2 separate regions of the Homo sapiens genome follow, and region 2 is linked to region 1. The links come from fine-mapping of genetic effects on gene expression. A gene starts in region 1. The other region holds a variant in brackets. All regions are shown on one strand. Distances are between the middles of the regions.

The links. PIP is the estimated chance that this variant, and not a neighbour inherited with it, causes the effect.
Region 2: its variant is fine-mapped to the expression of CDC25B in monocytes (Fairfax 2014, PIP 0.95).

The regions. Positions count from the first base shown.
Region 1 is chr20:3,788,541-3,804,922 of GRCh38, forward strand. It overlaps CDC25B (cell division cycle 25B), which reads left to right and starts at 7,770. Exons shown (of 16, transcript NM_021873.4): 1 at 7,770-8,191; 2 at 9,082-9,209; 3 at 9,872-9,923; 4 at 11,748-11,789; 5 at 11,922-11,958; 6 at 12,203-12,325; 7 at 12,431-12,553; 8 at 12,714-12,848; 9 at 13,182-13,262; 10 at 13,384-13,560; 11 at 13,741-13,836; 12 at 14,370-14,432; 13 at 14,568-14,666; 14 at 14,864-14,997; 2 more. The coding sequence starts at 7,992. RefSeq lists enhancers at 6,766-7,497, 7,408-7,567, 10,922-11,216, 13,297-14,496 and silencers at 7,798-7,867, 7,908-8,087, 8,154-8,361, 11,962-12,256.
Region 2 is chr20:3,817,536-3,833,917 of GRCh38, forward strand. It overlaps AP5S1 (adaptor related protein complex 5 subunit sigma 1), which reads left to right and starts at 3,012. Exons shown (of 3, transcript NM_018347.3): 1 at 3,012-3,223; 2 at 4,567-4,758; 3 at 6,336-11,303. The coding sequence starts at 4,583. The coding sequence ends at 6,762. RefSeq lists a silencer at 2,536-2,815 and enhancers at 2,812-3,515, 3,056-3,395, 13,441-13,941. The variant C/CAAAAAA (reference allele first, on the strand shown) is at 7,396.

The sequences.
Region 1 (16,382 bases):
AGAGAGGACTTCCCTATCCCTGAGATATAAAAGATATTCTTTTAATCTCAAGGTCCAAAAGAACACGTGGGAGACTTTTCCAGAGCACTGCTTGGCCCAAGAGGAGTGTGTGGTCACTGGGCAAAAATGAATCTAAGATTACCTGGATGAGAACTCCTTGCCATGCATCTTTTCTTTCTTTCCTCTCTTTCATCCTTTTCCTTGTTTCTTTCCTTCCTTCCTTCCCTTCTTTCTTTCTCTTTCTCTCTTTTCCTTCCTTTCCTTCTTTCTTTCCTTCCTTCCTTCCCTTCTTTCTTTCTCTTTCTCTCTTTTCCTTCCTTTCCTTCTTTCTTTCCTTCCTTCCTTTCTCTTCCTTTCCTTTCCTTTCCTGTGGCCCCTCCTTAGTGCCATACAAAGGGCATTGGCACAATTACTTCTAGGACAGAAAAGCCACGCCCATCATATGCTGATGTCATAGCCATTTCCAGATACCTCGTCTACCCTTTGCCTGTAGCAGTGCACGGGGCCCATTTCCATCCCCTCTCAAGTGACCATTTCCCCCAGCAATCCATCTGAGGCCCCGGGCTTCCCCACCTCTTTCTGTAAGTCCCAGCTTTCTGCTTTTAGGACTGTTTGGGAAATCCATAACTCACCTTCTCTTCTTTTGGTCCAGCCTGCCCAGAGCTGTCCTTCAGGCCCCTCAGCAAGCTTTCCATTCTCCTTTTGTTTATTTGAGACAGGGTCTAGCTCTGTCACCCAGGACGGAGTACAGTTGCACGATCATAGTTCATTGCAGCCTCAGTCTCCTCAGTAGCTAGGACTACAGGCATGAGGCACCATGCCTGGCTAATTTTTAATTTTTTTTTTTGAGACGGAGTCTCACTGTGTTGCCCAGGCTGGGAGTGCAGTGGCGTGATCTCAGCTCACTGCAACCTCCTCCTCCCTGGTTCAAGCAATTCTCCTGCTTCAGCCTCCTGAGTAGCTGGGATCACAGGTGTACACCACCATACCTGGCTTAGTTTTGTATTTTTAGTACAGACAGGGTTTCACCATGTTGGCCAGGCTAGTCTCAAACTCCTGACCTCAAGTGATCTGCCTACCTTGGCCTCCCAAAGTACTAGGATTGCAGCCGTGAGCCACCTCACCCGGCCAAAAAATAATAATAAATAATAAAAATAAAGAGAACAACATTGGGCGCGGTGGCTCATGCCTGTAATCCCAGCACTTTGGGAGGCCGAGGTGGGCAGATTACGAGGTCAGGAGATCGAGATCATCCTGGCTAACACGGTGGAACCCCGTCTCTATTAAAAATACAAAAAATTAGCCGGGCATGGTGGCGGGCGCCTGTAGTCCGAGCTACTCAGGAGGCTGAGGCAGGAGAGTGGCGTGAACCCGGGAGGTGGAGCTTGCAGTGAGCGGAGATCGCGCCACTGCACTCCAGCCTGGGCGACAGAGCAAGACTCTGTCTCAAAAAAAAAAAAAATTAGCTAGGCATAGTGCCTTGCGCCTGTAGTCCTAGCTCCTAGGGAGGCTGGGGTGGGCCGGAGGATCACCTGAGCCCAGGAGCATGAGGCTGCAATGAACTATGATTGCACCACTGCATTACAGCTTGGGTAACAAACTTTGTTTTGAAAGAAAGGAGGAAAAAGAAAGAAGGAAAGAAGGAAGGAAAGAAAAGGCAGAGATTGCAGTGAGCCGAGATTACGGCACTGTACTCTAACCTGGGTGACAGAGTGAGACTCTGTCTCAAAAAAAAAAAAGGTTTTATTAAGATATATTTCAAGAAGCATACAATTCACCCATTTAAAGTGTACAGTTCACAGATGTGCTCAACTGTCACCACAGTCCATTTTGGAATTTTTTTTTTTTTTTTTTTTGAGACCAAGTCTCACTCTGTCGCCCAGGCTGGAGTGCAGTGGCTCAATCTCGGCTCACTTCAACTTCAACCTCCGCCTCCCAGGTTCAAGAAACTCTGTCTCAAAAAAAAAAAAAAAAGATTTGCTTAAAAGTTAACATCTCGGGCTGGGCACGGTGGCTCACGCCTGTAATCCCAGCATTTTGGGAGGCCGAGGCGGGTGGATCACGAGGTCACCCAGGCTAGAGTGCAATGGTGCAATGTCAGCTCACTGCAACCTCTGCCTCGTAGGTTCAGTCATTTCTCCTGCTCAGCCTCCCAAGTAGCTAGGATTATAGGCGCCAACTACTATACCTGGCTAATTTTTGTATTTTTAGTAGAGACAGGGTTTCACCATATTGGCCAGGCTGGTCTCAAACTCCTGACCTCAGGTGATCCACCTGCCTGGGCCTCCCAAAGTGCTGGGATTACAGGCGTGAGCCACCGCACCTGGCCTAATTTTTGTATTTTTTGTAGAGACAGAGTTTCACCATGTTGCCCAGGCTGGTCTCGAACTCCTGAGCTCAAGCGAGTCTTCCTCCTTAGCCTCCCAAAGTGCTGGGATTATAGGCATGAGCCACCACCCACACTTCTTTTACTCTAGGAAACTTGTTCAGAAGTCCATTTGCTATGATCTCAACATGTAGTCTTTCAATAATGAGCCCCTACCAAGCAGGCATCCCCACCTGACTGCCCGTTCTCCTTAAAGGTTGCATGTATTGCACAGTGCAAAGGAATCACCTCCCCTATTGAAGACAATAACTCAACGAACATACATCTGTGTGTACTTTTATCATCTCCTTAAGAGAAATGCTGAGAAGTGGGATATTAGGGTCAGGGGCCAACTTTGGTCTTGAACCAAAGTTCTGGGAGCAAGGTTCTGGGAGCCTGGGAGAGAGGTAAATGATTTAGTCCTTGTCCTTCAATAGTCCAGTCAGCTTGAGATGAGATTCAAGAAAGGGAAAAGGAGATTTCAATACTTAATGCTACTGGGTGTGGTGGCTCATGCCTGTAATCCCAGCACTTTTGGAGACTGAGGCTGGTGGATCGCTTAAGCCCAGGAGTTCAAGACCAGCCTGGGGAACATGACAAAACCCAGTCTCTCCAAAAAATACAAAAATGTGCCAAGCATAGTGGGATGCGCCTGTAGTCACAGCTACTTGGGAGGCTGAGGTGGGAGGATTGCTTGAACTCAGGAGACAGATGTTGCAGTGAGCCGAGATTTAACACTGCCCTCCAGCCTGGGTGACGGAGAGACTTGGACTCAAAACAAAAACAGAAAACAAACTAAATGCTGTGCCTCCCATCAGTTCCTCCCTAGGAATTCATCTTGTAGATAGCACACAGACACATAAGGGCATACTTACTGCATCGTTGTAAAAGCTAATATCCTAAATGTTCAGCATTAGGGGCTTGAGTAAATATATATTGTTATGGTACTAATATGGATCCATCTCCAAGTAAGAAGAAGAAAGGTATAGAACAGTGGTTTTTATTTTTATTTATTTATTTATTTTTGAGACAGAATCTCACTTTGTCACCCAGGCTGGAGTGCAGTGGCACGATCTTGGCTCACTGCAACCTCCGCCTCCTGGATTCAGGTGATTCTCCTGCCTCAGACTCCCAAGTAGCTGGGATTACAGGCACATGCCACCATGCCTGGCTAATTTTTGTATTTTTAGTAGAGACAGGGTTTCACCATGTTGCCCAGGCTGATCTTGAACTCCTGACTTCAGGTGATCCACCTACCTTGGCCTCCCAAAGTACTGGGATTACAGGTGTGAGCCAGCATGCCAGCCTAGAACAATGTTCATATGCTGTTTGTATATTCTTTAAAATACAGACGGATTTACGCTTGTAAAGATATAGACCTGCAGCCACTAACCCTAAGTGGCCATTGAACTATTAATTTATTTATTTTATGTTTAGAATCAAAGTCTCACTCTGTTGCCCAGGCTGGAGTGCAGTGGTGGAATTATGGCTCACTGCAGACTCAAACTCCTGGGCTCAAGCTATCCTCCTACCTCAGCCTCCAGAGTCACTTGGATTTTTTGTTTGTTTGTCTGTTTTTGAGACGGAGTCTTGCTCTTTTCGCCCAGGCTGGAGTGCAATGGCATGATCTAGGCTCACTGCAACCTCCGCCTCCCAGGTTCAAGCGATTCTCCTGCCTCAGCCTCCCGAGTAGCTGGGATTTCAGGTCGGTGCCACCAGGCCAAACTAATGTATGTATTTTTAGTAGAGACAGGTTTTCACCATGTCGGCCAGGCTGGTCTCAAACTCCTGACCTTGTGATCCACCTGCCTCGGCCTCCCAAAGTGCTGGGATTACAGGTGTGAGCCACCGTGCCCAGCGAGTCACTTGGATTATAGGCAGGGGCCACCACACCGGGCTAAGTTTTTAAAAAATGTTTTGTAGAGACAAGGTTTCACCATATTGCCCAGGCTGGTCTTGAATTACTAGCCTCAGGCAATTGTCCTGCAGCAGGCTCTGGAGTTGCTGGGATTATAGGTGTGAGCCACAGTGCCAGCACTATTGAGCCCTTTAAATGTTGCAAGTACAAATTGAGATGTGCTGGGGGTGTAAAATGCATACTAGTTTGAAGACTTGATATCCAAAAATGTAAAATATCTCATTAATTTATATTGATAACATGTCGAATAATATTTTGAATACATTACATTGAATAAAATATTACAGTAATTTCATGTTTCTTTTTTACTGTTTTAAATGTGGCTACTAGAATATTTTAAATTATGTATGTGGGCCAGGCGCAGTGGCTCACGCCTGTAATCCTAGCACTTTGGGAGGCCGAGGTGGGTGGATCACCTGAGGTCAGGAGTTCGAGACCAGCCTGGCCAATATGGCAAAACCCTGTCTCTACTGAAAATACAAAATTGGCCAGGAATGGTGGCGGGCACCTGTAATCCCAGGTACTCGAGAGGCTGAGGCAGGAAAATCGCTTGAACCCAGGAGGCAGAGGTTGCAGTGAGCCGAGATCATGCCACTGCACTCCAGCCTGGGCGACAGGGCGAGACTCCATCTCAAACAAACAAACAAAAAAACCCAGAACCCCTCTGTGGTCTTGCCCACCTCCCCCCTCACTGGCCCAGAGGTGACCTGACTGTGGGATTTCTGTTTTTTTTTTTTTGGTTTTAGAGAATTTTATTTTATTTTATTTTATTTTTTTATTTTATTATTATTATACTTTAAGTTTTAGGGTACATGTGCACAATGTGCAGGTTAGTTACATATGTATACATGTGCCATGCTGGTGTGCTACACCCATTAACTCGTCATTTAGCATTAGGTATATCTCCTAATGCTATCCCTCCCCCCTCCCCCCACCCCACAACAGTCCCCAGAGTGTGATGTTCCCCTTCCTGTGTCCATGTGTTCTCATTGTTCAATTCCCACCTATGAGTAGAATATGCGGTGTTTGGTTTTTTGTTCTTGCGATAGTTTACTGAGAATGATTATTTCCAATTTCATCCATGTCCCTACAAAGGACATGAACTCATCATTTTTTATGGCTGCATAGTATTCCATGGTGTATATGTGCCACATTTTCTTAATCCAGTCTATCATTGTTGGACATTTGGGTTGGTTCCAAGTCTTTGCTATTGTGAATAGTGCCGCAATAAACATACATGTGCATGTGTCTTTATAGCAGCATGATTTATAATCCTTTGGGTATATACCCAGTAATGGGATGGCTGGGTCAAATGGTATTTCTAGTTCTAGATCCCTGAGGAATCGCCACACTGACTTCCACAAGGGTTGAACTAGTTTACAGTCCCACCAGCGGTGTAAAAGTGTTCCTATTTCTCCACATCCTCTCCAGCACCTGTTGTTTCCTGACTTTTTAATGATTGCCATTCTAACTGGTGTGAGATGGTATCTCATTGTGGTTTTGATTTGCATTTCTCTGATGGCCAGTGATGATGAGCATTTTTTCATGTGTTTTTTGACTGTGGGATTTCAAGGGATTCAATAGTATAATGCCTGCCCTGCCACATACACCCTGTGCAGATGTATATTGGCTGGGTGGGGGGTGGGGGGGATACCTGTTGTGTTTATTTTGAAAATGCAAATCTCGGGGCAGTTTTTTTTTTCTGGTTTTTGGGCTGGGTGGCTTTACAAGGACACTTCCCCCTTCCCTCCTGGCACTAAGGGCAGTCACATCCTCACTGGAAGTAGTGGCTGGAGGTCCAGGGCATAACCCCTGACCCAGGGAGGATGAACCGGAAATTCAGTCTTGCAGAGCCCTCTGCACAGCACAGGAGCTGGGCAAAATTTGGAGAAAAGGAAAGGTCACGTTCCCACCTTGGCCACCCCTCTCAGGTGGGGCTGGGGTCTTCCCCTACCCTTCAGATGCATTGGCCCACCCAGCCCCCCATCACCAGGCCCTCCCTTTTGCCACCCCCATCCAATGCACCTTGGGTCTGGGTGGCTGGGACTGCACGAGAAGGGGTACTCCTGCCTTGCTGAGCTGCAGCCCGCCCCCCGCACCACCACCCGCCCAGCCAGAGGCCACTTCTAACCTGGGGAGACAGGATGCGAAAGCTGCTCACTACCCACCGGCTTTTGGGTGCAGCCTTCAGGCCTCTTGTTCCAGGAGGCCTGGAAAACGAGCGGGGCTGGAAGGCATTTAGATAATTGGAAGATGGGCCGGGCACAGTGGCTCGTGCGTGTAATCCCAGCACTTTGGGAGGCCTAGGTGGGTGGATCACGAGGTCAGGAGTTCGAGACCAGCCTGGCCAATATGGTGAAACCCCCGTCTCTACTAAAAATACAAACATTAGCTGGGCGTGGTGGCGCGCTCCTGTAGTCTCAGCTACTCGGGAGGCTGAGGCAGAAGAATCGCTGGAACCCGGGTGGCGGAGGTTGTAGTGAGCAGAGATGGCCACTGCACTCCAGCCGGGTTGACAGAGGGAGACTCCATCCCAAAAAAAACAAAACAAAACAAAAAGAAAGATAATTGGAAGCTGCTCCGCTTAAAACGAATGACAAATTCAGCCTCCCTGGTCTGGTCATCAAAGAAACACCAATTAAATAATATGGTGCCATTGGCACCAAGTTAGCCAAATCATCAATGGGCGTGATACTTAATTCGCCTCTCTGGTTGCTGACACCCTCCTCGACCCCCAGCCGCGGAAATCCATTCCTAGTTCCACCGTTTAGAGCCTCTCCTGGGGCTGCCGCGAAAATTGGGCCGGTTGGGGTAACATCTAACCTGGGGTCCCGCGAAAGAGCCCATCAGTTCCGCTTGGGGGCCCCACTGCCCTCCCACCTCCTACGCTGGGCGCTTCTCCTGCGAATGACGTTTTGCTGCTGCTCAGCGCAGCCAGTCGCGGAGGCGGGGAGGCTGCGCGGTCAGAGGCGCCTGGAGCGAGCGAATCCTGGCCCACCGCCTGCCCAACCGCGTGACCTTGATTGAGTTAATGAACTTCACGCCTCAGCGTCCAGGTCTGTAAAATGGGGTGTCTAACGCAGACCGTACAGCCCAGCTGGGTTTAGCAAACTTCCGGGAGCCAGTTGGAGCCTCTCCCCATCCCTAGCGGTGATCCCAGGTGACGACATGCCGCGGGGGGTCCTGCGGAGGCCACCCTAGGGCGTTGCTGCTGCCTTTGGGAGTGTGGAGCTCCAAACCATGTCGCGAGAGGCGGATTTTGGGAGGCCGGGATCCTCGCGCCAGGGGGATGTGCGAGGGTGTGGGATAAATCTTAATTCCTCCGGCCCACCCAAAGCCTGGAAATCCAGCCTCCGCGCCTCTTGCCCTGCGGGCCCCGCCCTCAGTCCCGCCCTCATCTAACCCGCTACCCCATTGGTGGCGTCCGGCGGCGCGGCTGCTGTTATTTTTCGAATATATAAGGAGGTGGAAGTGGCAGCTGCAACTAGAGGCTTCCCTGGCTGGTGCCTGAGCCCGGCGTCCCTCGCCCCCCGCCCTCCCCGCATCCCTCTCCTCCCTCGCGCCTGGCCCTGTGGCTCTTCCTCCCTCCCTCCTTCCCCCCCCCCCCACCCCTCGCCCGCTGCCTCCCTCGGCCCAGCCAGCTGTGCCGGCGTTTGTTGGCTGCCCTGCGCCCGGCCCTCCAGCCAGCCTTCTGCCGGCCCCGCCGCGATGGAGGTGCCCCAGCCGGAGCCCGCGCCAGGCTCGGCTCTCAGTCCAGCAGGCGTGTGCGGTGGCGCCCAGCGTCCGGGCCACCTCCCGGGCCTCCTGCTGGGATCTCATGGCCTCCTGGGGTCCCCGGTGCGGGCGGCCGCTTCCTCGCCGGTCACCACCCTCACCCAGACCATGCACGACCTCGCCGGGCTCGGCAGGTAGGACACCCCAAGGAGGCTGCATATGGGGGTGAGAGGCTAGGTCTGGAGTCCTGGGCCTCCTGGAGAACTGGGCATGGTAGTCGAATCCAGGAGGTGGAGTCCGGGGAGGCATCCTGAGCAGTGGAGAGGTACGCCCTTGTTCCCTCCTAGGGGCCCAGGACATGGGAAGTGAGACCTGGGCTGTGCCCCCCACACCTCCAGGTGACCTGCTCTCAGTCTGCACAAGCCTCTCCAAATCTTCTTTCCCCTCACTCCCTCCTCCCTCATTGTGCCTCCACCACGCTGCCTCCGTAATCTCTGCCCGGATAGCCACCATTTTGCCCCAGGATGGGAATCTCAAGCCTGGAGAGGGAACTTAAGGGTGGCAGAGCCGTGGAGCACTCACACATCCATGCCCCTGCTCCCTCCACCCCAGTTCTGCCCCCAGAATTAAGACAATTAATTAAACACTGATCCTGCTCCCTAAGTCTGCAAGGGGAGAGCTGGGTTGTTCCAGTAGGAGAACCTGGTCTTGGTCCATCCTTCAGGAAGGGTCCTGGAAAGGTGGGGGTCTGACAGTTTAGGGGAAGGCTCTCTGGGGCGGCTCTGCTAGACCACCAACCCTTAGGCTGGCCTCCAGCCAGGCAGCCTTGCTCACACCCTGGGCTCACCTTGCCCTGCTCCTGAGAGGACCTTTCCTAAACCAGTCAACGAAGAGAAGACGCTTTAGGGCCTCTGTAGAATGAACCTTCCTTGACCTGAGAAGAGGGGGCCCTCAGGGCCATTGCTTTCCCGGTGTAGTGTTTCGCTCAGTTCTTTTCTCAGCAAGGGAGTGGGAACGTGGGCTAGCCAGGCCTTGAGCCCCACGTTTACCTTTCTCCTTTCCCGGGTCCCTGTTCCCTTCCCAGCGAAACCCCAAAGAGTCAGGTAGGGACCCTGCTCTTCCGCAGCCGCAGCCGCCTGACGCACCTATCCCTGTCTCGACGGGCATCCGAATCCTCCCTGTCGTCTGAATCCTCCGAATCTTCTGATGCAGGTGAGGCCCAGGGGAGCCTGGGGAGATCTGCCTGTGTCAGGAGAGTTTGTGGGGGCTGCCTGGGCCTCCCAATTTCCCTGCCGATCAAACTAACATCCTCCCCACAACCTGGTGGGCCCAGGAGCCTCTCCCCCACCCTCCACAGAAATGGGAGGAAGACACACCTCTTGTGGGGCTCACCACACCCAACGCGGACTGGCTGAGTGGATGAGAGGGTGGGGCCCTCTACGGAGATGAGATCTTACCTATGTAAAACCACGCTCCAGAGTTCCTAAACCACAACCCTACCTGGGAAGCACCCAGGGCTGAGAGTTGGTCTTTAAAACATTCTTAGCCTATAACCTCTTCTTTAAAAATCTGTTGTCTCTTCTAGAACAAATTATTTTAAACCAGTTCAAGAAAAATGCTTAGTGAGCATTGTGGTTTAAAGACGCATATGAAGGAATTTCCATAGTAAACAGGGAGTGGAGCCCTGTACCGTCTGGGGGACGATGTGTCAGCTCTCAGGGTCCATGGTTGGGTTTTTGTTTCATTTTCTAATGTGTCAAAGTCCAAACTAGAAACTGTTTTTTTTTTTTTTTTTTTTTTCATATTGGGACATGGTGGGGGAAAGAATACAGAAAGTGCCACTACTTTCAAACCAAGGTGCTCTGTCCCCTCAGGTCTCTGCATGGATTCCCCCAGCCCTATGGACCCCCACATGGCGGAGCAGACGTGAGTAGAGAAGGGAATGTGTACTTCCAAGCATTCAGCACCTGTCTTTAAGAATCCTAGTTCTACCATAAATTCACCCGGGAGGCCTGGGAAAGCAGACAGACCATGGGGTGGCTTCAGGATCCCCATGGCCGGGGGGCTCACTGACTTTCTCAGGCCTTGGCATTCTGCTCCCTGTCTCAGAGAAGGATCTGCTCTCATGGGAGCCAACCGAGTGTGGGCTCAGGGCCAGGGATAGTGGGGACAGTGGCCACTGGGAGAGCAGATACTAGACTACAGCCCATGTCTTGCAGGAATACAAGCCCAGCGTATGTCCCGTTTTTCTTTCTTGCCTATACCCATTTTTTTCTGTGAAATATTACAATTTAAAAATATGATCCAACTAATTCAAAACTTTAACTCACTCTAGGCCAAACAAAACACAGTTGCCTGCAGATTGATTTGGCTCTTGGCCGATCAGCAACCTCTGACTTCGATGACACTTTACCCTCTGGCCAGCCCTGGTCTAGGCCCTTTCTGCAAGGGAATGGAGAGAGAGTTGGTGGGCTCTGGCCTGGACAGACCATCCCCTTGGCTGTGGGCATGGGTGGTGTCTTCCAGAGCACAGCTGTTCCCATCCAGTTGTTAAAGCCCAAGCAGCGGGGCAGCTGCCAGCCATTAGTAGGGACAGCTGGGCATCTCTGGCCTGTGCTGGGGACTGTGGCTTTGGGTTTAGGATAGTGACTTGTCTTACCTCCCATTGCCTTTGATCAGACTGGGTTGGGCTGCAGATTGGTTCACAAACAGGAAATGGGGAGAGGATTGGGTGGGGTTGGGGGACTGCAGGTTGGTTTTGGTGGCAGCACAGAGCAATCTTGCCCTACCCCCAAGGCCCATGTGCAAGCCAATGAAATTGGTCATCCCTGATGCCAGGTTGGCTGGGCACAGCAGCCCCCCGGGGGGGCATCCCCCTCATACTTTATCCCTGAGTGGTTCCCTGCCCTGCACCTGCTCTGACAGTTATACAGAGTTTCTCAGAAGCTGTGTGTGTGTGTGTGTGTGTGTGTGTGTGTGTGTGTGTGTGCGCGCGCGCGCGTAGATGCACAAAAGCTCCGCGTGGCAGGTGGTCTCCTGTAACACGGCTGAGGGGGCGGGGCCTCAGAGGGAACATGTGTTGGAATTCCTTGCCTGCTGGCCTCTTCTAAGGCAGGAGGAGGGGGTGGGACAGAGGCTGGTCCTGGAAAATTCCATAGGAGGGAGGAGAGGATGTGAGCCTGCACGTTTGTCACTGGGGGTCTACTGTATCAGACTGGAGCTGACTGGGGGAGCCCTAAAGCAGGCCCCAGTCCTCAGAGGACCGGGAGCCAGGCCAGCTCCTCACAGGGGAGAGGAAGCCTAGCCTTGCTGTTGTCCAGGCCCTGGAGACACCCACATTGCTGGGTGCCCCTGGCCTATCATAGGATGGATGGATGCCTTTCCTGGCAGCCATATGGCCCCGCTGAGGTGATTTGCATACAGGTGGAAGGCCTGGTGCAGGCTGGCGAGACTGTTGCCTTGGTGACGCCTCCCTGACCCTGACCTGCCCCAGCTGTCTCTATCACTGCCATTCTCTGGGCTTTCTTTCATTCAGGGCAGCCTTTAAAATTCCAAGCTGCCTCTTATCTTCCCCCTCCCCAATACCTGGGCCCCCTGATGGTGGGCGTTCTTCCCACCCCACCCCTTCCACTGCCTTGAGCCTTGGCCCTTGTCTTTGCCCTTACTCCCCCCTGGACTGGGGGCCTGGTGCTGGGGTGGGTGATGGGTGCGGAGGGAGCATGGGTTGCATGGGACCCTTCTCTGTCCTAGGTTTGAACAGGCCATCCAGGCAGCCAGCCGGATCATTCGAAAGTAAGTGTTCCTGGGCCTCTTCCATCTACCACAAGCTTTCCCTTAGGACAGGGCTCCAGAAGGGCATGCTGCATGCTCTTGGTCCCTGCCCTGCCTCTCCCAGCTCTCACCTGTCCCCATTTCCTCCTGTAGCGAGCAGTTTGCCATCAGACGCTTCCAGTCTATGCCGGTGAGTGTCTTCGAGGCCTGACTGAGGCTTAGGCATGCTAGCCAGGCATGGGGTAGATGAGCAGGATGCATTCAGGGATCACCTCCCAGCTGGGTGTCCCCAGGCAGGCTGTAGGAGATGGGGTTTCAGAGGTAGGTAGGTAAGTGGGAGGAGCTGGAGGAGAGGTGGAGAAGGTAGGGCCTGGGCTCGTGCCGGAGGAATGCAGCCTTCATTCCTCTGCCTGCCGCCCTGCCTGGCTCTCTAGGTGAGGCTGCTGGGCCACAGCCCCGTGCTTCGGAACATCACCAACTCCCAGGCGCCCGACGGCCGGAGGAAGAGCGAGGCGGGCAGTGGAGCTGCCAGCAGCTCTGGGGAAGACAAGGAGAATGTGCGCTTCTGGAAGGCCGGGGTGGGAGCTCTCCGGGAAGAGGAGGGGGCATGCTGGGGTGGTTCCCTGGCATGTGAGGACCCTCCTCTCCCATCTTGGCTGCAGGATGGATTTGTCTTCAAGATGCCATGGAAGCCCACACATCCCAGCTCCACCCATGCTCTGGCAGAGTGGGCCAGCCGCAGGGAAGCCTTTGCCCAGAGACCCAGCTCGGCCCCCGACCTGATGGTACATCCAGAGAGCGGATCCCTGGGAGGGGCCTGGGGAGGCAGCCTCGGAGAAGAGGAGGGTGGCCCTGAACCCCCAGGCACTGGGAACTTTTCCTCAGGAGGATGGGGGCGGGAACTATCTCCACCTCTAAGTCTGTGTCTGTCTGTCATGTGGACAGTGTCTCAGTCCTGACCGGAAGATGGAAGTGGAGGAGCTCAGCCCCCTGGCCCTAGGTCGCTTCTCTCTGACCCCTGCAGAGGGGGATACTGAGGAAGATGATGGATTTGTGGACATCCTAGAGAGTGACTTAAAGGTAAACAGCCTTGTCCCACCAGGCCCCTACCTTCCTATCCCTGGGTTCGCCCAAAAGAAGAGAGCTCTGAGCCCTTGTGGCAGGACCATGATGTCATTCCAGTGTCAGAAGAAGAATCTGAGGTAACTGAGTCACAGCCTAACCTCTGGCCAATGAGAGAAGAACAGGTGGCTGGTGCCACAGTGGAGGGCGGTTTGGGAGGTAGGGGAGCTTCTCACCCCAACCTGGAGTTTGCCAGGGAAACAGGGAAGGCTGTGCTGGAGGATTCCGGGACTGGAGGGGTTTGGCCTATGCCTGTGGGTTGTGACCCTGTCCTTGCTAATCTGGCCTCAGGATGATGATGCAGTTCCCCCAGGCATGGAGAGTCTCATTAGTGCCCCACTGGTCAAGACCTTGGAAAAGGAAGAGGAAAAGGTGGGCCTCTGGGGTGGCCCCCTCCGAATTTGGAGGCATGGGGTCCATCCTACTCTCCAGTGGATTTGAGGGATGGGACGGGGCCTGGGCACCCTGATCCCTAACCTGCTGTCCCTGCCAGGACCTCGTCATGTACAGCAAGTGCCAGCGGCTCTTCCGCTCTCCGTCCATGCCCTGCAGCGTGATCCGGCCCATCCTCAAGAGGCTGGAGCGGCCCCAGGACAGGGACACGCCCGTGCAGAATAAGCGGAGGCGGAGCGTGACCCCTCCTGAGGAGCAGCAGGAGGCTGAGGAACCTGTGAGTGCCTTCCTCCTGGGGTTCACTTTGGCATGCACCTGGGCAGCCACCCCCTTGGCTAAGTTTGTGGCAGAGGGCAGGTGGCAGCCTGGGCATGGCAGAGAAAGGGGGTACCAGCCAGCCAGAGCACTGGGGGGCAGCCCCACCCTGACCCTGGCCTCCATCTGACTCACTTTCCAGAAAGCCCGCGTCCTCCGCTCAAAATCACTGTGTCACGATGAGATCGAGAACCTCCTGGACAGTGACCACCGAGAGCTGATTGGAGATTACTCTAAGGTACCTGCAGCAGCGAAGGGGGTACCTTGGGGGCTTGACCTCTTACTGACTAGGGGTCCTCTAGCCCAGGGGCTGCTTGGGTTCCTCCCTTTCTCCCCGGAGCCCCCCTTTTCTTTGTCCTTTGTATCTTTTCATCCTTTGTTCTCACATAGACTCCTCCCTCTGGCCCTCCTTGTCTCCTGACTCCACCTCAAGTCAGTCCAGGCATCTGTTGAGTCTCCGTCTTATTTCCAAGCTCATACCTAGCTTGGAACCCCCTCATGCCTCACCTTCGGGCTTGGCAGAGGGTAGGGAGCAGAGTGTGGAGTTCATCTCTTCCACTTCCCTTTTTCATTTCTCTTTCCCCTTGGAAGGTTGTTCCCTGGGTGTCAGACCCAAGAGGTGCCTCTCAGTTGCCATGGGAACCAGAACTGAATTTGAAGGCCAAAGCAGGTGTGGCCTCTGATTTTGGGAATGAAACTTCATTCTTTGAGGCTCCTGGTCTTACCAATTTAACTTTCTCCCCTCTCCCTCATCCCTTCCGTTCCCTTCAGGCCTTCCTCCTACAGACAGTAGACGGAAAGCACCAAGACCTCAAGTACATCTCACCAGAAACGGTAAACAGCGTTGCGTCATTTTCTAGGCAGATTTGGGACTGTAGCTCCATTGTTGACCTTCCCTGGGGACAGGCTAGGGCCACCTGCCAGCTGCCAGCCTGACCTGCCGGAACCAACCCCCATGACCTCCTACAGATGGTGGCCCTATTGACGGGCAAGTTCAGCAACATCGTGGATAAGTTTGTGATTGTAGACTGCAGATACCCCTATGAATATGAAGGCGGGCACATCAAGGTAAGATGGGGCAATGGGGAGAGGCCCTGAAGATCCCACCTGGTTTAGGTCCTTGCTTTGCCAAGAGGGTGAATGGGTGGAGGACGGGTGCCCCCTCTCATGGGGAGGGTTCCTACTAAGAGAAGGACAGCGACTGCACGGGGAGGGCCCTGACTCCTGGACCCGGGGCTGTGCCTGACCTCTGGCTCCTCTGACAGACTGCGGTGAACTTGCCCCTGGAACGCGACGCCGAGAGCTTCCTACTGAAGAGCCCCATCGCGCCCTGTAGCCTGGACAAGAGAGTCATCCTCATTTTCCACTGTGAATTCTCATCTGAGCGTGGGCCCCGCATGTGAGTCCCAGCTCCGCCCAGCCAGCTAGTGTCTGCCCTGGCCTTCCCTGCCCAGGCTCACAGGTGCTGGCACCATTGAGATGGCCAGGGGTGCAAGTCCAGGTCCTCCTCTGTCCCATCTGATGGCCTAGAGCTGACCTCAGCCCCACTTCACTGTGCATGGTACCCGCCTCCCATCTCCCTCACTGTCCTGCCTATCAAGCCTCATGTCCACCCCACATCCATTACTGCCACCCTCAGAAAATTTAGTTCCAAGTCTCTAGCGGTGTCTTTTCTCGAAATCTAAGGGCCGCGTGTCAGTCCCCAGTACACGGACCCTCCCCATGTTCAGTGCTGTTAGGTCTCCATTAGAACCTCTTCCATTGGCATCCACAGCACCTGGGCCTCCCTGGCTGAGCTCCTTCTGTCGCTATTCCTGTTCTGCCTGGCCATCTGTCCTCCCACCCCTGCCTCCTCCTGGGTTGCCACTGGTCCATATGACTGCTAGTGGCTCCCCAGCCTGGCCTCACCCATGTGGTGGGAATCTGCACCCAGACGCCCCTTACAGAGTCGCATCCCTGCGGCCCTCCCAACTTCTCCAGGCATCCCAGCATATGGCACCCACCTCCACCTGGGCACCGGGCCTGGGCACTGGCTTCAGTCTTGGGTCCTCCTCCTCCCTTCTCCCCACCACTGATCCTCACCAGGTCTTGTCCAGGAGTGGCCCGAATGGATCCCTTGAATTTGGCCCACTTGTCTCCTCTCCTGCTTCTCCTTTCCTGGTCCAGGCACAGATATCTCTAACAAAGATTGTGCAACTGCCTTCTAGAAACGGAGAGTTCATCCCCTTGATTTTACCTCCTTCCTTCCGCCTCCCCACCCTCTTCTGTAGCCAGAGTGACCTAAAAGTGTTCTTGTGGTTACATTCCTGTGCTCTAAAGCTTTCTGTGGCTCCCCAAGGCCCTCAAAGGAGGGGACGTGGGGGATAGGTCCCATGATGTACAAGCCACTGCATGCCCCACTCTGACCACACCCTGCCCATGACGCCCCAGGTGCCGTTTCATCAGGGAACGAGACCGTGCTGTCAACGACTACCCCAGCCTCTACTACCCTGAGATGTATATCCTGAAAGGCGGCTACAAGGAGTTCTTCCCTCAGCACCCGGTAGCGTGGGTGGGGAAGGCCACAGTCTCTGTGTGAGGGTTGGCTTGGCCAGGCTGGAGCCATGGGATGGGGGGTGGGAGGGTTGGGTCCCTGCCAAACTTACCCATTCCACTGCATTGACCCCTCCTGTCCTGCCCTAGAACTTCTGTGAACCCCAGGACTACCGGCCCATGAACCACGAGGCCTTCAAGGATGAGCTAAAGACCTTCCGCCTCAAGACTCGCAGCTGGGCTGGGGAGCGG
Region 2 (16,382 bases), 29 kb after region 1:
TTCTGACTTGTAACAGTGCAGCATGGCTTGCCTAGATTTGGACCTTTTATGTTAATGGAGTCACATGGCATGTACACTTCTGTGACTGGCTTCTTTCACTGAACATTGTGTCTGTGAGAGTCACTCATGTTGTGTATCAGTAGTTGTTCTTTTCCATTGCCCTATACTATTCCACTGTACGAGTATACCACAATTTATCCATCATTCCATAACTGATGGATATTTGGGTAGTTTCCAGTTTGGGACAATTAAGAGTAAAGATACTGGCCAGGGGCGGTGGCTCATGCCTGTAATCCCAGCACTTTGGGAGGCCAAGGCGGGCAGGAGTTCATGAGGCCAGGAGTTCGAGACCAGCCTGGCCAACATGGCGAAACCCCGTCTCTAATGAAAATACAAAAATTAGACAGACGTGGTGGCAGGTGCCTGTAACCCCAGCTACTCGGGAGGCTAAGGCAGGAGAATCGCTTGAATCCAGGAGGCAAAGGTTGCAGTGAGCCGAGATCGTGCCACTGCACTCCAGCCTGGGTGACAAGAGCAAGACTCCATCTCAAAAAAAAAAAAAAAAAAAAAAAAAGAGCAAAGATACTATGAATATTCTATTTGTGTCTTTTGGTGAACAACAGCCCTTATTTCACTCAGGTACACATCAAGAGTGGCGCTGCTGGGTCATGGAGCAGTGAGGTCAGCATGAGTAGCCACTGCTGGGCTTGCTGTTTTAGATGATGTCTGAGCTAGCAGGCATAGACATTCCCAATGTACCCAGAACAGACTCTCAGAAGCATGGGTTGGACCCAGGAGAGCCCAGTGGCCAAGGAAAAGGGATCTCCCAGGGCACACCCACAAGCAGCCTCCAGCAAAACCATCAAGCAAAACCCCCACTCCCAGTAGGCTGAGGAAGCCCTCCATGCTGTCACCTCCATCTGGGTCTCCCACTGTCCTCTGGGAGTAGTAGCTCAAGCCAGCCTCCCACAGCTGTCTCCTCCACACACCTCACATGAGGCCAGCCCTCTAGTGGTCAGAAACTTGGTGTTGACTCACTGCCTGAGGAGTGGACAGAGGCTGGGAAACTGTGTTCCAGATGCCAGGTGGCCCCCAGCAACCAGAGCCCTCTCCTTGCTAGCTCTCTGCTGTAATCAGCTGGCAGACACCAGCCCTGGCTGAGAGCAATAGGGACTGGGGACCAGGAGCTGTGCCAACATCACTCCCCAGCCTCGTAGCTGAGGCCCCACAGTCTCTGGGCTTGCCGCAACACCTGCACACACATTTACGTGTTGTCACATGCTTTGGCCAGGCCCTGGCCACCTGCAGCTTCCCTTCAGTCACCTCCTAACCTATCCTGGGTCCTATGGCTTAAGGGGCCCAGAGTGCACTTTCTCAGGGGGTGCTGGCTCTAGGATCCCTGCCTGGGCCACCCTACCCTGTTCTCCTTTCTTGTCACCAAAGAGCGTGTTCAAGCCGGCTCCAGTCCTGTGTTGTGCATGGCCCTGGGGAGTGGAGATGGAAGCCATCAGCACTATTGGTGAGACCTGATTCACAGGGGTGCAAAGGCCGCAGCTGAATGCCAACGGGCAGCCTGAGCAGGAAGGCTTCCTCCCATTTTGTCTGAGTATATATCTACAAGGTCAATTAAAAGGACAGGAAAGGCCAGGCGTGGAGACTCACGCCTGTAATCCTAGCAATTTGTGGGGGAGAAGCGGGAGGATCACTTGAGCCCAGAGTTCAAGACCAGCCTGGGCAATACAGTGAGACGCTAACTCTACAAAAAAATTTAAAGTAGCTGGATGTGTTGCCTGCCTATAGTCCCAGCTACTTGGGGGGCTGAGGTAGGAGCATTGCTGATGGGAGCGGGCAGCGAGGCTGCAAAAAAAAAAAAAAAAAAAAAAAAAGCCGGGAAAGGGAATTCTAGGCTGGGGGAACAGTCAGTGGGGGAGGCTCCGAGGCACATTTGGGGGACAAGGCTGAAGCCATTCACATGCCAAGAGGTAAAGGAGGTGCAGCTTCATGGTCGCGGTGGGGGTGGTAGTGGTGGTGGTGGCTGGAGGAACACATGCAAGTCAGGCAGTGAGGCCCAGGCAGGCCTTGTGGGGCCCCCAAACACCAATGGGCCAAGCCTCCAAGTTGGGGCTTTTACGTAAGGCTCTATAGGGGTTAGCGCCAGAGTGCCCCTTTCAGGTTTAAGGTATAAACCTCTTCCCTGTTGTTTTGATGGCCTCCAGTCAAGAAGGGGGCTTGCTGGTCAGCCCTACTAAGCGTTCGCCCTGGGCGACACTCTACAAGGTTTTACTGGGGCCCAATGAAATTGACAGATCTGCCAGGGACACACACTGAGAGTCCAGAAGCAGCGTTCGAATCGTTCTGCGCCGAACCGAGTGACAGCATTAAACCGCTGCAGGAACCCACAAATTCAGAATCTGCGCAAAATACACATATTTGTATTTAAAATCCGCGCAAAATACCCATGTGCCTAAATACACATATTTCCCTCCAAAGTCATAATTTCCGGGGGTACAGCCCAGGAATGTACATTTGAACTGGTGCCCCAGTGATTCTCACGCATGTTGGCTAGATAAGAACTCAGCCGCAGCCCGTAGCTGCGCGGCCCGGCCTAGGTCCACCCGCCGCCCGTCCCGGAGCCTCCTAAGGCCGCAGGCGACGCGCCCCGCCCTCCGGGGACAACTAGGCCCCGGCCTTTTCCGCAGACTCCGCGCTCCGAGCCGCGGCGCCCCCTCGCGGCCGCCGGGGTCGGCAGCCTGGGGCTCCGCTGATCTAGGGCAACGAGCGGGGGACGCTTCGAGCCCGCAGCGAGAGTGACCAGCATGGTCCCTGCCGGCAGCTCGGGGCCGGAGGGTTTTGACTGCAAGGCCAGCCCACGCCGAGGGTCCAAGCATCGGGATATGCCGCCAGCACCTGGCTGCTGCAGCACCGCGCTGGACATGAGCGCTCCGCCCAACCCGACGGCGTCAGCTGGCGCGCGCGCCCGCGACCGACGTGCGCAGGCGCCCACGGGCCGCGCAGCCGCCATTGCTCTCCTGCCACGGAGGGGAGCGCTTGGTGGCAGTCCGCGGGCCCGGACGGAAGGCTGAGGCGACGCCTCGACGACAGCGGACCGGAGCTGCAGGGGCAACACATTCAGGGCGGGGTGCCCCATTTAGGCCTGGCTGACCGGAGTAAGAAACTACAACCCCCGAAGTGCCTTGCGCCTCAAGGTTACGGAGGCAGTGACGTAAGCTGTCTTGACCGCTACCATTTCTCTAGTAGAGGCGGGACGCGGCGGCGCGGAGTGATGACGCGCTCTGCTGGCGGCTGGAGGGTTGCGGAGGTCAGCAATTGGGTGCTGGGCTCCGGTTCTCGAAGTGCCTTTGCGAACCTGCTATTTTACCAGTTTAAACTGACGGTCTGTTTAGCCTTAGCTACAGATACCCACTGACTGTGTACCCGCCGCCTTTCAACCCCCGGGCCGGCCACTGAGCCAGCCAGATAACCATTACTATTATTTAGTTTCTATTTTGAAACAGTTTCAGGTAACTCCTGTATGCACTTGGATGAGATTCACAAGTTGTAACCTCATTTGCCCCATTTACCTTATTATTTCCTCTGTTTTTCTCTCTGCCTTTTTTCTTCCCTGGACCAAGTGAGTTAGTTGCAGATATGAAATCCTGTTTCCTCTATATTTAGAGGCCCATCCGTGTTTATTTTCTAAAAACAAGGACGAGCTCCTGCATTCAAAATCGGGTAACATTGGTCAAGACTTTTTCTGACCCATAGTCCATATTGAAATGTTTTTAAAGTTTTTATTAGTGTCCTAATAATGCCCTTTATGGAAATTATCCTTTTGTTTTTCTTTCTTTTTTTTTGAGACAAGAGTTTCCCTCTGTCGCCCAGGCTGAAGTGCAGTGGTGCGATCTCGGCTCACTGCAGCCTCCCCTCCCGGGTTCAAGCGATTCTGTGGCTTCAGCCTCTCAAGTAGCTGGGGTTACAACCATGCGCCACCATGCCCGGCTAATTTATTTTTAGTAGAGATGAGGTTTCACCATGTTGGCAGGCTGGTCTGGAACTCCTGACCTCAAGTGATCCGCCCACCTAGACCTCCCAAGGTGCTGGGATTACAGGCGTGAGTCACCACACCTGGCCCAAATTACCCTTTTCTTGGTCCAGGACCCGATCCAGGAGTACACGTCGCATTCAGCTATCTGGTCTCTTCAGTCTCCTTCGGTCTGGAGCAGCTCCTCAGGTTTTCCATGACCGCATGACCTTGACGCTTTTGAAGATACCTGTTGTTTTGTAGAACTAGGTTTAGGGTGGTCTGAGATTTTTTTTGTTTGTTTGTTTGTTTTTCTTTTTTCTTTTTTTTTTTTTTTAGTTTATGCCTATTCTGCTTATGTATGTCTGAGATTTTTTATCACTGGATTCTGTTATGTGATGTTGTTCAGATGCTGTTATTCAAAGTGTTCAGCCTCACTGGCCTCTGGATACACTCCCAGACACTGCCAGGTCAGCCCCTTCCTGTGGTCGCCTCTCCTGCTGGGGTTCACTCTCACCTTACCAATGTCTCTGGCTTCCCTGTAGCACCCACCCTGGAGCCATGGTCCACGCCTTCCTCATTCACACCTTGAGGGCCCCGAATACTGAGGACACGGGCCTTTGCCGAGTGCTGTACTCCTGCGTCTTCGGTGCTGAGAAGTCACCTGATGACCCACGGCCGCATGGTGCCGAGAGGGACAGGCTTCTCCGGAAGGAACAGATTTTAGCTGTGGCCAGGTAACCACACAGCCCAGCCCCAGGCCTTCATTGAACACGTACCTGATTGTAATAGGTATTTTCGGGGAGTGGGGACGCAGAGAAATAGGAGGACTAAGAAGCAGAGAGGAAGTTTTAGAGTAGCATTTCCCAGAGAGTCTTCCACAGCTTTTCATAAGTGTTACGTGAAAAGGGTTAAATAAATAATAATTCTGTTATCATTATTAGTATAATTAGCATTTGTTCAGCCTGTAAGTGCTAAGCATTTATATTCTGAACATCTTATATATATTAACTCATTTAATCCTCATAATAGTCTTTTGAGGTAGGTATAGTTATTATCTCCACCTTATAGATGAGTAAACTGAGGTATAGAGTGTTTGAGGAATTTAACCTGTCCAAGGTTACATAGCTAGAAAGTAGCAGAACTAAGATTTGAGAGTAGGCAGGCAGACAGTACAGATTAAACATGCTTTTCAGTGCAGTACTTAACAGGGCCTTTAGTGTGCCTGTAGACTTTATGAATTTCTAACGAAGAGAGAGGATGTGGTACATGAGGACTCCAGAAAGCCAGGGATCCAGATCACAGTTTGGAATATACTGTTCCAGACTAGGGTGGCTAGCCTTGGCTCTTCCCCTCTCAGACCCAGCCAGAACTGGTAGGTGCTGGAGCCTCCTGGACCTCCGCATTCTGGGTGGGGTAGCACCACTCTGGGGCAACCTTCTGCCAACTCCTGCCTTTCCCTTGTTCTTCTTATTCTCCTTCCCCTCCCTGTAGCTCAGAAAACCAAATACATGCCTTTAAAACCAGCCTGTGCGTGGCTCAGACTGGAAGGTGATTCAGGAAAGATCAAAGGGAGCTTCTAAGAAGCCTTGTTGGTCCAATGGAAGGTCTTTCTTTCATATTTGGAGAGGGTTGCAGGATAGGGTGGAGATTGGACTGCCCACGTTGGGTGATGGCGTTTATTTTCTGCCTCATCCCTTTCCTTTTTTTGAGATGGAGTCTTGCTCTGTCGCCCAGGCTGGAGTGCAGTGGCGCAATCTTGGCTCACTGCAACCTCCGCCTCCTGGGTTCATGCCATTCTCCTGCCTCAGCCTCCCGAGTAGCTGGGACTACAGGCGCCCGCCACCACGCCTGGCTAATTTTTTTAAATATTTTTAGTAGAGACGGGGTTTCACTATGTTAGCCAGGATGGTCTCGATCTCCTGACCTCGTGATCCGCCCGCCTCGGCCTCCCAAAGTGCTGGGATTACAGGCTTGAGCCACCGCGCCTGGCCAAGCCGCTTCCCTTTCCTTTATGTGGAGAAGGCCTCTGTGAAGCAGGTGAGGGCAGGATCTTCTTCCTCTGGTGCCCTTTTTCAGCCCAAGGAGCTGGGTTGAAAACCTGCCCTCTTGGCCACATGGAATAAAGTGGTTCAGGACCTGGAGGCTCACACTTCCTGATTCTGTGGCCCTGGGCAGATCACTTAGTCTCTCTAGGCCTCAGTTTTCTCACTTGAGATATGGGGATGATGGTAGCTCCCAGCACCAGGGTTGATCATGAGGATGACAGAGTTGGTGTGTGAGCCCACCAGCCTGACCTGCCCACTCTCCCCAGGCAGGTAGAGTCAATGTGTCGGCTGCAGCAGCAGGCATCTGGCCGGCCCCCCATGGACCTGCAGCCGCAATCCTCAGATGAGCAAGTGCCGCTGCACGAGGCCCCACGTGGGGCTTTCCGCCTGGCAGCAGAGAACCCTTTCCAGGAGCCACGGACGGTGGTGTGGCTGGGCGTGCTCTCGTTAGGCTTTGCCCTGGTGCTGGATGCCCATGAGAACCTGCTACTGGCTGAGGGCACGCTCCGGCTGCTGACACGCCTCCTCCTTGACCACCTCCGGCTGCTGGCGCCCAGCACCAGCCTTCTGCTGCGGGCTGACCGCATTGAGGGCATCCTCACCCGCTTCCTGCCACATGGTCAGCTGCTTTTCCTCAACGACCAGTTTGTCCAAGGCCTGGAGAAGGAATTCAGTGCCGCTTGGCCCCGCTGATTCCTCGTTGGGATGGTGCTTCTGAGGGCAGGCAGAGGGTAGACACACAGCCAGATGAAGCTTGGCATCTCCCTCCTACCCAGCAGCTCTGATGTGCTGCTATACCAGGACAAGTGGGTGACACAAGCCTGCAGAAAGGGGGCTGGGCAGAGGGTGGAGGAGGTCCTGCCTGTCCTCAGGTTAGTGGAACCACAGAACTTCCTGAGCCTAGAGCTGCTGTGTTACTTAGACCGCTGCCGTGCGGCAGCCACGCTTGTCCTTGAACCCACCTTCCTCCATCCCTGCCAGCCGATAGTGCTAGGGTGAGGAGCTGCCTGGAGCTCACCCCGCTCTTCTTCCAAACCCACAGTCAAGGCCAGGCGCGGTGGCTCACGCCTGTAATCCCAGCACTTTGCGGGGCTGAGGTGGTTGGACCACCTCAGGTCGGGAGTTCAAGACCAGCCTGGCCAACATAGTGAAACCCCATCTCTACTAAAAATACAAAAATTAGCTGGGTGTATGGCGCCCACCTGTAATCCTAGCTGCTCAGGGGGCTGAGTCATGGGAATCACTTGAACCTGGGAGGCAGAGTTTGCAGTGAGCCGAGAGTGCGCCACTTCACTCCAGCCTGGGCAACAGAGTGAGACTCCATCT[C/CAAAAAA]AAAAAAAAAAAAAAAATCCCACAGTCATCGAAACACAAAAGGGGTCTCAGACTCCCCTGAGGGTGGAGGAGCTGTGCCTGCATGCTGGCAGGCCACAGCCCCTGGCTTTGTGCCCACTTAGGCAGTATTATCAACAAGGTCCTGCTCAGTGTCCAGCCCCCGCTGAGTTCAGAAATGCATCTGCCAATCAGCAGCAGGATTCTGCAGCTCCTTTTGTGCCAAGCCCGTTCCCACCAGGCAGGCTCGAGATAAAGTCATCACAGCCTTCCCTCATCTGCAGGGAGAGAAGTTGCTGTCAGATGAATGTGAGCAGTCTAGCCTGGATGACATATTTTTCGTTTTGAATTAAAAGCACTGGCTGTGTGATTTTACCCTCTTTCTGTGAGTTTGATGCGTGCATCCTGCTCCTATGAGTGAGTGCCTCTCTGGATGGCCCCAAAGCTGCGTGTCTGAGCTTTCGTGGTCAAGGATCCCCCTAGGAGGCTTCTTGGGATGCCTCCATCTCTCATCCCCACCTCACCTCTGTCTCCTTAGAGGCCTCCTTTGGATGGTGGCACACATTTCTCCACCAAAGTATATGTCACAGGTGGCAGGTGGCTGTGGCAGAGCCGTCTGAGAAGCAGTGCTTGGGCTGAGAATTGGTGCGAGTGGTTTATGTGGGGTGGGCGGTGATCCCGGGAAGCAGGAAGGGGACACAGTCCTCGTGAATGCTTGTCAAGCCTATTAGGACTGTGGTAGGGAGCTGAGTGCCTCTAGGGGGCTGCACACAGCAGTTGCCTCTGAATTACCTCACCTGAGAGGTGGCGGCTGTGGGTGTTTGCCTACTGCCTTTAGTCAGTGGTTACAGGTTGATCCCAGGGTGCATACATTCCCTGGCTCTTTCTGCCCCTGAGAAAAAGCCTTCAGGCAATGTGGAGCTGGGCCTGCCTGCACCATGTTGAGTCCCAAAGGGATATGGGTGGGGTACCAAAAGTCGGTGGTTAGGAGGTCTTCAATCAGCAGCTTCTAGTGAAGGTTTAAACTTACTCAGTTGGGGGCGGGGGGTGGGGGAAAAACCACTTCAGTTTACATTGATTTTCATGATCTTCCTGTTACCAAGGAAGGTGAGGCTTTCTTGGCAGAACGAGCCTCCTAGGTGCTCAGCTCTCATGCTTGCCATCCATCAGTTGCCCTTTAGCATCCAGGATGGACCCAACTACACCCACTTTGGAGGCAGCACTGATGATTAGCCCTTCCAAGTCCATGGCCAAGGCCACCAGCCATGCCAGGCCTTCTACCACCACTGTCAACATAATTGGGATGAGGCCACCTTTTCCATTTTATGGTGCCACAAACCACCTTGACCATGAAGACCTAAAGGGATGTTACTCTGTGTGTGTGGCCAAGTCCCACCAGTGGAAATGTCCCACAGGCCTCTAGTAGGGACACCCCTTCCCTATACATTCTGTTCTCCTGGCCCACCCCTCACCCCAGGCTGGCGGTCCTGGTGGATTGGCTGTGTTCTCAGGGAACAGGCCATTTTGTCCTCTATGGAAAGGCTCAAGCTTACTGATCTGAATTCTTTCTGCCTTTTTTTCAAACGGAACTTAAGGAAGAGGTTGAGACTCTGCTCCCCTGGGAGCTGTGGGAAGTTGAGGTTAGGCGTGGCTGGTGGCCTGGTTCTCATGAGGTGGGGCAAACTGATGGACAAGAGAATAGTAGAGACTGAGACCACACCGTGGGGCTGCTGAGCTCCAGTTCCTGTCCAGCTGGACCAGGGTTTTCTTAACCAGATGAGCTTGCCCAGCACCCTTCCCACACTTCACACTTCTGCCCCAGCCTCTTGGGCTGGGTTTCCACCACAATTTATGCTCACCATATATTTATCGAGCCTCCCTTGGGCCTGATGCTCTGCTGGGTGCAATGCAGGATACAGAATGACCCCAAAGTTCCAGGAGAGACAGAGCTAAGGCCAGGTGACTGCAGATGACTGCAAAGCAGCAATGGTTTGAGCATCCCTGAATTGCTGCTCACAAGTGCTTTAAACACCTAAAGGAAGAAGGGGCACTTCAGTGACGAAGGCCAAGTGAAGGAGCCAGGATTTAGAACTAAAAGTGAGATGGCTATGGAAGCAAACTTGCCTCCCTCTCCAAGCCTCTTCCCTTTCTTCTCCCTGCCCCAGGAACCCTGGCCAAACCACATATCCCTCAGCTTCTTGAGAGAACTAGAGACTTTGAGCAGCTAGTAGTGTTACCAGTGTACCTCCACAAACACTCCTGGGACAACAGATGATGACAGGAGGGCAGTAGAGCCCAGAGAAGAGAGCTTACCTGGAAGGAGGAAGAAGTCACAGGTTTTGTTTTGTTTTGTTTTAGGCGGAGTTTCTCTTTGTTGCCCAGGCTGGAGTGCAGTGGCGCAATCTCGGCTCATTGCAAGCTCCGCCTCCCAGATTCACGCCATTCTGTCTCAGCCTCCCAAGTAGCTGGGACTACAGGTGCCTGCCACCACGTCCGGTTAAGTTTTTCTATTTTTAGTAGAGACGGGGTTTCACCGTGTTAGCCAGGTTGGTCTACATCTCCTGACCTTGTGATCCGCCCGCCGTGGCCTCTCAAAGTACCGGGATTATAGGCGTGAGCCACCACGACTGACTGGCATGAAGTCACAGGTTTTAAGGCAGGAACTGGCCTGCATGTATGTGGGTCACTGATTGGGTCACATACACTGCATGTATGTGAGCCCTGGGATGGGATTGGATCATCTTGTCTCCTTTAGGGCAGGGTGTTTTTTTCTAGCCCTGTGGTGCTGCGCACTGTCCAGCATCCCCCCAGGGCTCAATGTTTTCTTTTCTTTTTCTTTTTTTTTTTTTTTTGAGATGGAGTCTCACTCTGTTGCTCAGGCTGGAGTGCAGTGGTGCAATCTTGGCTCACTGCAACCTCTGCCTCCTGGGTTCAAGCAATTCTACCGCCTCAGCCTCCCAAGTAGCTGGGATTACAAGCATGTGCCACCATGCCTGGCTAATTTTTGTATCTTTAGTAGAGACAGGGTTTCACCGTGTTGGCCAGGCTGGTCTCGAACTCCTTACCTCAGGTGATCCACCCATATTGGCCTCCCAAAGTGCTGAGATTACAGGTGTGAGCCACCATGCCTGGCCTCAATCTTTTCTTTTAAACAATTATTCCTATATTTTATTGTAATGCAGTTAACCGTGTTTGTCAGATTCAATACTCTGTGACCCGTTAACCAAGTCTCTGTATGTTTATTACTGCAATTCAAGTGGCCGTGACCGTTTTCTTAAATATACTTTATTTGTTTAGTGCAATTTTAGGTTCACAGTAAAACTGAGCAGAGGGTACAGAGAGTTCTCATTTACTCCCTGTCCCCACACATGCACAGCCTCCCTTATCACCAACACTGGGCACCAGAGTGGTCATTTGTTACAACTGATGGACCTTCATTGACACGTCACTATCACCAGAGTCCATAGTTTACATTAGGGTTCACTCTTGGGGTGGTACATTCTATAGGTTTGGATGTATTTTCAGTGACATGCATCTACCATTATAGTATCATACAGAAGAGTTTCCCTGCCCGAACAGTCCTCTGCTGCACCTGTTCATTCTTCCCTCCCCTCAACCCCTAGCAACCATTGATCCTTTTACTGCTTCCATAGTTTTGCCTTTTCCAGAATGTTGTGTAGTTAGATTCATACTGTATATGTAGCCTTTTCAGATTGACTTCCTTCACTTAGTAATGTACATTTAAGATTCCTTCAAGTCTTTTCATGGCTGAATCATGAGCTTGACAGCTCATTTTGGAAGTACTGCTGAATAGTATTCCATTATGTGGATGTACATTATCTGTTCACCTACTGAAGGACATCTTGGTTGCTTCCAAGTTTTGGCAATTATGAATACAACTGCTACAAACATTTGTGTACAGGTTTTTGTGTGAACATAAGTTTTCAACTCCTTTGGGAGTATAAATACTCATAAATACCAAGGAATATGAGTCCTGGATTCTGTGGTAAGAGTATGTTTCATTTTGTAAGAAACTGCCAAACTGTCTTCAAAAGTGGCTGTACCATTTTGCATTCCTGTTGGCAGTTAATGAGGGTTTCTGTTGCTCTACATCCTCTGAAACATTTGGTTTCGTCACTGTTTTGGTTTTGGCCCATTCTTTTTTTTTTTTTTTTTCCTGAGACGGAGTGTCCTTTGTCATCCAGACTGGAGTGCAGTGGCACTATCTCGCCTCACTGCAACCTTGACTGCCCAGGTTCAAGCAATTCTCCTGCCTCAGCTTCCCGAGTAGCTGGGATTACAGGCGTGTGCCACCACGCCTGGCTGATTTTTTTTTTTTTTTTTCTGAGACAGAGTCTCGCTCTGTCATCCAGGCTGGAGTGCAGTGGCACAATCTCCACTCACTGCGACCTCCGCCTCCCGGGTTCAAACCATTCTTCTGCCTCAGCCTCCTGAATAGCTGGGACTACAGGCACACGCCACCGCGCCTGGCTGATTTTTGTATTTTTAGAAGAGAGAGGGTTTCACCATATTGGCCAGGCTGGTCTCAAACTCCTGACCTGAAGTCATCTGCCTGCTTCAGCCTCCCAGAGTGCTGGGATTACAGGCATGAGCCTCTGCACCCGGCTGGCTTTTGGCCATTCTAATAGGTATGTAGTGAAATCTTGTTTTAATTTGCAGTTCCCTAATAACATGACGTAGAGTATCTTTCCTATGCTTACTTGCCATCTGTAAATCTTTAGTGAGGTGTCTGTTCAAGTCTTTTGCCCATTTTAAAACAGGCAACTTGTTTGGGTGATTTCTTTTTGTTGAGTTTTAAGAGTTCTTTGTGTATTTTGGATAACAGCTCTTTATCAGATATACCTTTTGCAAATATTTTCTCCCAGTCTGTGGCTTGTCTTCTCATTCTCTTGACAGTGTCTTTCACAAAGCAGAGCTTTTTAAATTTAATGAAGTCCAGTTTCATATAATTTAATGAAGTGGGCCGGGCGAGGTGGCTCATGAGGCCTGTAATCCCAGCACTTTGGGAGGCCAAGGCAGGAGGATTGCTTGAGCCCAGGAGTTCGAAACCAGCCTGTACAACATAGAGACTTCATCTCTACAAAAAAATATAAAAATTGGCTGAGTGTGGTGCACACCTGTGGTCCCAGCTACTTGGGAGGCTGAGGTCGAAGGATTGCTTAAGCCCAGGAGGTCAAGGCTGCACTGACCTGTGACTGTGCCACTGCACTCCAGCCTGGGTGACAGAGCAAGACTTTGTTTCCAAAAAAAAAAAAAAAAAATTAATGAAGTTTGTCAATTTTTTTTTTTTTTTTTTTTGAGACGGAGTTTCTCTCTTGTTGCCCAGGTTGGAGTGCAATGGTGCAATCTCGGCTCGCCACAACCTCGCCTCCCGGGTTCAAGCAATTCCCCTGCCTCAGCCTCCTGAGTAGCTGGGATTACAGGCATGTGCCACCACCCTTGGCTAATTTTGTATTTTTCGTAGAGACAGGGTTTCTCCATGTTGGTTAGGCTGGTCTCGAACTCCCGACCTCAGGTGATCCACCCGCCTCGGCCTCCCAAAGTGCTGGGATTACAGGCGTGAGCCACCATGCCCAGCTCTTTGTCAATTTTTTAAATGGATCCTGCCTTTACTGTTGTATTTAAAAAGTCATCACCAATCCAATATCATCTAGATTTTCTCCTATGTTATCTACTAGAAGTTTTACAGTTTTGCATTTTACATTTAGGTCTATGATCCATTTTGAGTTCATTTTTGTGAAGGGTGTAAGGTCTATGTGTAGATTCATGTTTTTGCATGTGGATGTTCAGTTGTTCCAACATAATCTCTTGAAAAGAGTCTTTCTATCTTTGTTCCATTGTATTGCTTTTACTCCTTTGTCAGAGACCAGTTGACTGTATTAATGTGGGTCTCTCCTGGGTTCTTTATTCTGTTCCATTAATCTGTTTGTCTATTCTTTTGCCAATACTACACTATTTTTTTTTTTTTTTTTTTTTGAGATGGAGTCTCACTCTTACCCAGCCTGGAGTGTAATGGTGCAATCTTGGCTCACTGCAACCTCCACCTTCCAGGTTCAAGCCACCCTCCCGCCTTAGCCTCCCTAGTAGCTGGGACTATAGGCATGCACCACCATGCCTGGCTAATTTTTCTATTTTTGTTAGAGATGGGATTTCACCGTGTTGGCCAGGCTGGTCTCAAACTCCTGACCTCTGGTAATCTGCCCACCTCAGCCTCACAAAATGCTGGGATTATAGGCATGAGCCACTGTGCCTGGCCACCACACTATCTTTTTTCAAGGTTTTTTTTTTTTTTTTTTTTTTTTTTCTGAGAGAGAGTCTCACTCTGTCGCCCAGGCTGGAGTGCAGTGGCGCAATCTCGGCTCACTGCAAGCTCCGCCTCCCAGCTTTACGCCATTCTCCCGCCTCAGGCTCCTGAGTAGCTGGGACTACAGGCGCCCGCCACCACACCTGGCTAATTTTGTTTTTGTATTTTTAGCAGAGACGGGGTTTCACCGTATTAGCCAGGATGGTCTTGATCTCCTGACCTTGTGATCTGCCCGCCTCGGCCTCCCAAAGTGCTGGGATTACAGGCGTGAGCCACTGCACCTGGCCCACTATCTTGATTACTGTAACTTTATAGTAAGTCTTGAAGTCAGGCAGTGTCAATCTTTAACTTTTTTCTTCATATATATATATCTATATATATATGTGTGTGTGTGGTGTGTGTGTGTGTGTGTGTATATATATATATATTTTTTTTTTTTTTTTTTTTTGGAGACAAGGTCTTTACTCTGTCACCCAGGCTACAGTACAGTAGTGTGATCACAGCTCACTGCAGCCTGGACCTCCCTGGCTAAGTGATCTTCCCACCACAGGCATGCACCACCACACCCAGCTAAATTTTAAATATTTAGTAGAGACAGGGTCTTGCTATGTTGTCCAAGCTGGCCTTCAACTCCTGAGCTCAAGCAATCCTCCCACCTTGGCCTTCCAAAGTGGGTAATGTGGTTTTAATATCAGATTGCACTTGGCTGGGCACAGTGGCTCATGCCTATAATCCCAGCACTTTGGGAGGCCAAGGTGGGTAGATCATCTGAGGTCAGGAATCCGAGACCAGCCTGGCCAACATGGCAGAAACCGTGTCTCTACTAAAAATACAAAAATTAGCCAGGAGTGGTGGTACATGCCTATAATCCCAGCTACTTGGGAGGCTGAGGCAGGAGAATCATTTGAACCTGGGAGGTGGAGGTCCAGTGAGCTGAGATCATGCCACTGCACTTCAGCCTGGGTGACAGAGTGAAACTGTCTCAAAAAAAAAAAAAAAAAAAAGCTGGGCGTAGTGGCTTACTCCTGTAATCCCAGCACTTTGAGAGGCTGAGGCGGGCGGATCACAAGGTGAGGAGATCGAGACCATCCTGGTTAACACAGTGAAACCCCGTGTCTACTAAAAATACAAAAAAATTAGCTGGGTGTGGTGGTGAGCGCCTGTAGTCCCAGCTACTCGGGAGGCTGAGGCAGGAGAATGGCATGAACCCGGGAGGCGGAGCTTGCGGTGAGCCGAGATCGCGCCACTGTACTCCAGCCTGGGCAACAGAGTGAAACTCTGTCTCAAAAAAAAAAAAAACAAAAAAAAACAAAAAAAAAACATTGCACTTGCTGATTGCTTGTATAAGTGAAAGCAATTGACTTTTTTTTCTTTTTTGAGACAGGGTCTCACTCTGTTGCCCAAGCTGGAGTGCAGTGGCGCAGTCTTGGCTCACTGCAGCCTGTGCCTTCTGGGCTCAAGTGATCCCCCCACCTCAGCCTCCCAAGTAGCTGAGATTACAGATGTGCACCACTATGCCCAGCTAAATTTTTGTGTTTTTAGTAGAGACGAGGTTTCACTATGTTGGCCAGTCTGGTCTCAAAATCCTGATCTCAAGTGATCCACCCACCTTGGCCTCCCAAAGTGCTGGGATTACAGGCGTGAGCCATCGTGCCTGGGCACCATTTTTTTCCTTTTTTTTGAGACGGAGTCTCGCTCTGTTGCCCAGGCTGGAGTGCAGTGCCACCATCTCAGCTCACTGCAACCTCCACCTCCCGGGTTCAAGCGATTCTCCTGCCTCAGCCTCCCGAGTAGCTGGTACTACAGGTGCGCACCACCATGCCCAGCTAATTTTTGTATTTTTAATAGACACGGGGTTTCACCATGTTGGCCAGGATGGTCTCAATCTCTTGACCCAGTGATCCACCCACCTCAGCCTCCCAAAATGCTGGGATTACAGGTGTGAATCACCACACCCGGCTGAGTTTTTCTTTTTTTAATAGAGATAAGGTCTTCCTACAGGGAGGTTGCCAAGGCTAATCTCAAACTCCTGGACTCAATAGATCCGCCTGCCTTGACCTCTCAAAGTGCAGGAATTACAGGCATGAGCCACTTCGTCCAGCTTAGCAATTGACTTTTGTATATTAATGTTGTGTCTTGCAATCTTGCTGTAATGCTTATTCGTTCCAAGAGTTTTTGTTGGTTTGTTTTTGTTGATTCTTTCAGATTTTCTACATTAGCTAGGACTTTTGGTACAACATTGAAAATGAGTTGTTAGGACATTATTGCCTTGTTCCTGACCTTAGTGGGAAAGCTTCCAGTTTCTCACCATTAAGTATGATTTTTGTAAATGTTCTTTATCAACTTGTGAAGTTCTCTTATTTCCTAGTTTGTTGAGAGTTTTTATTGTAAATGGTGGTTGGACTTTGCCACATGCTTTTTCTGCTTTTATTGGTATGATAATGCAATTTTACATCGTTAGCCTGTCAATGTAATTGATTATCTTAATTGATTTTCAAATGTTGAACTAGCCTCACATACCTGGAATAAATCCCGCTTGGTCATTTTGAGTAATTATTTTTATACATTACTGGATTTGATTTGCTACTATTTTGTTGAGGAGTTTTGCATCTATGTTCACAAGAGATACTGGTCTGTAGTTTCCTTGCTTCCTTCCTTCCTTCCT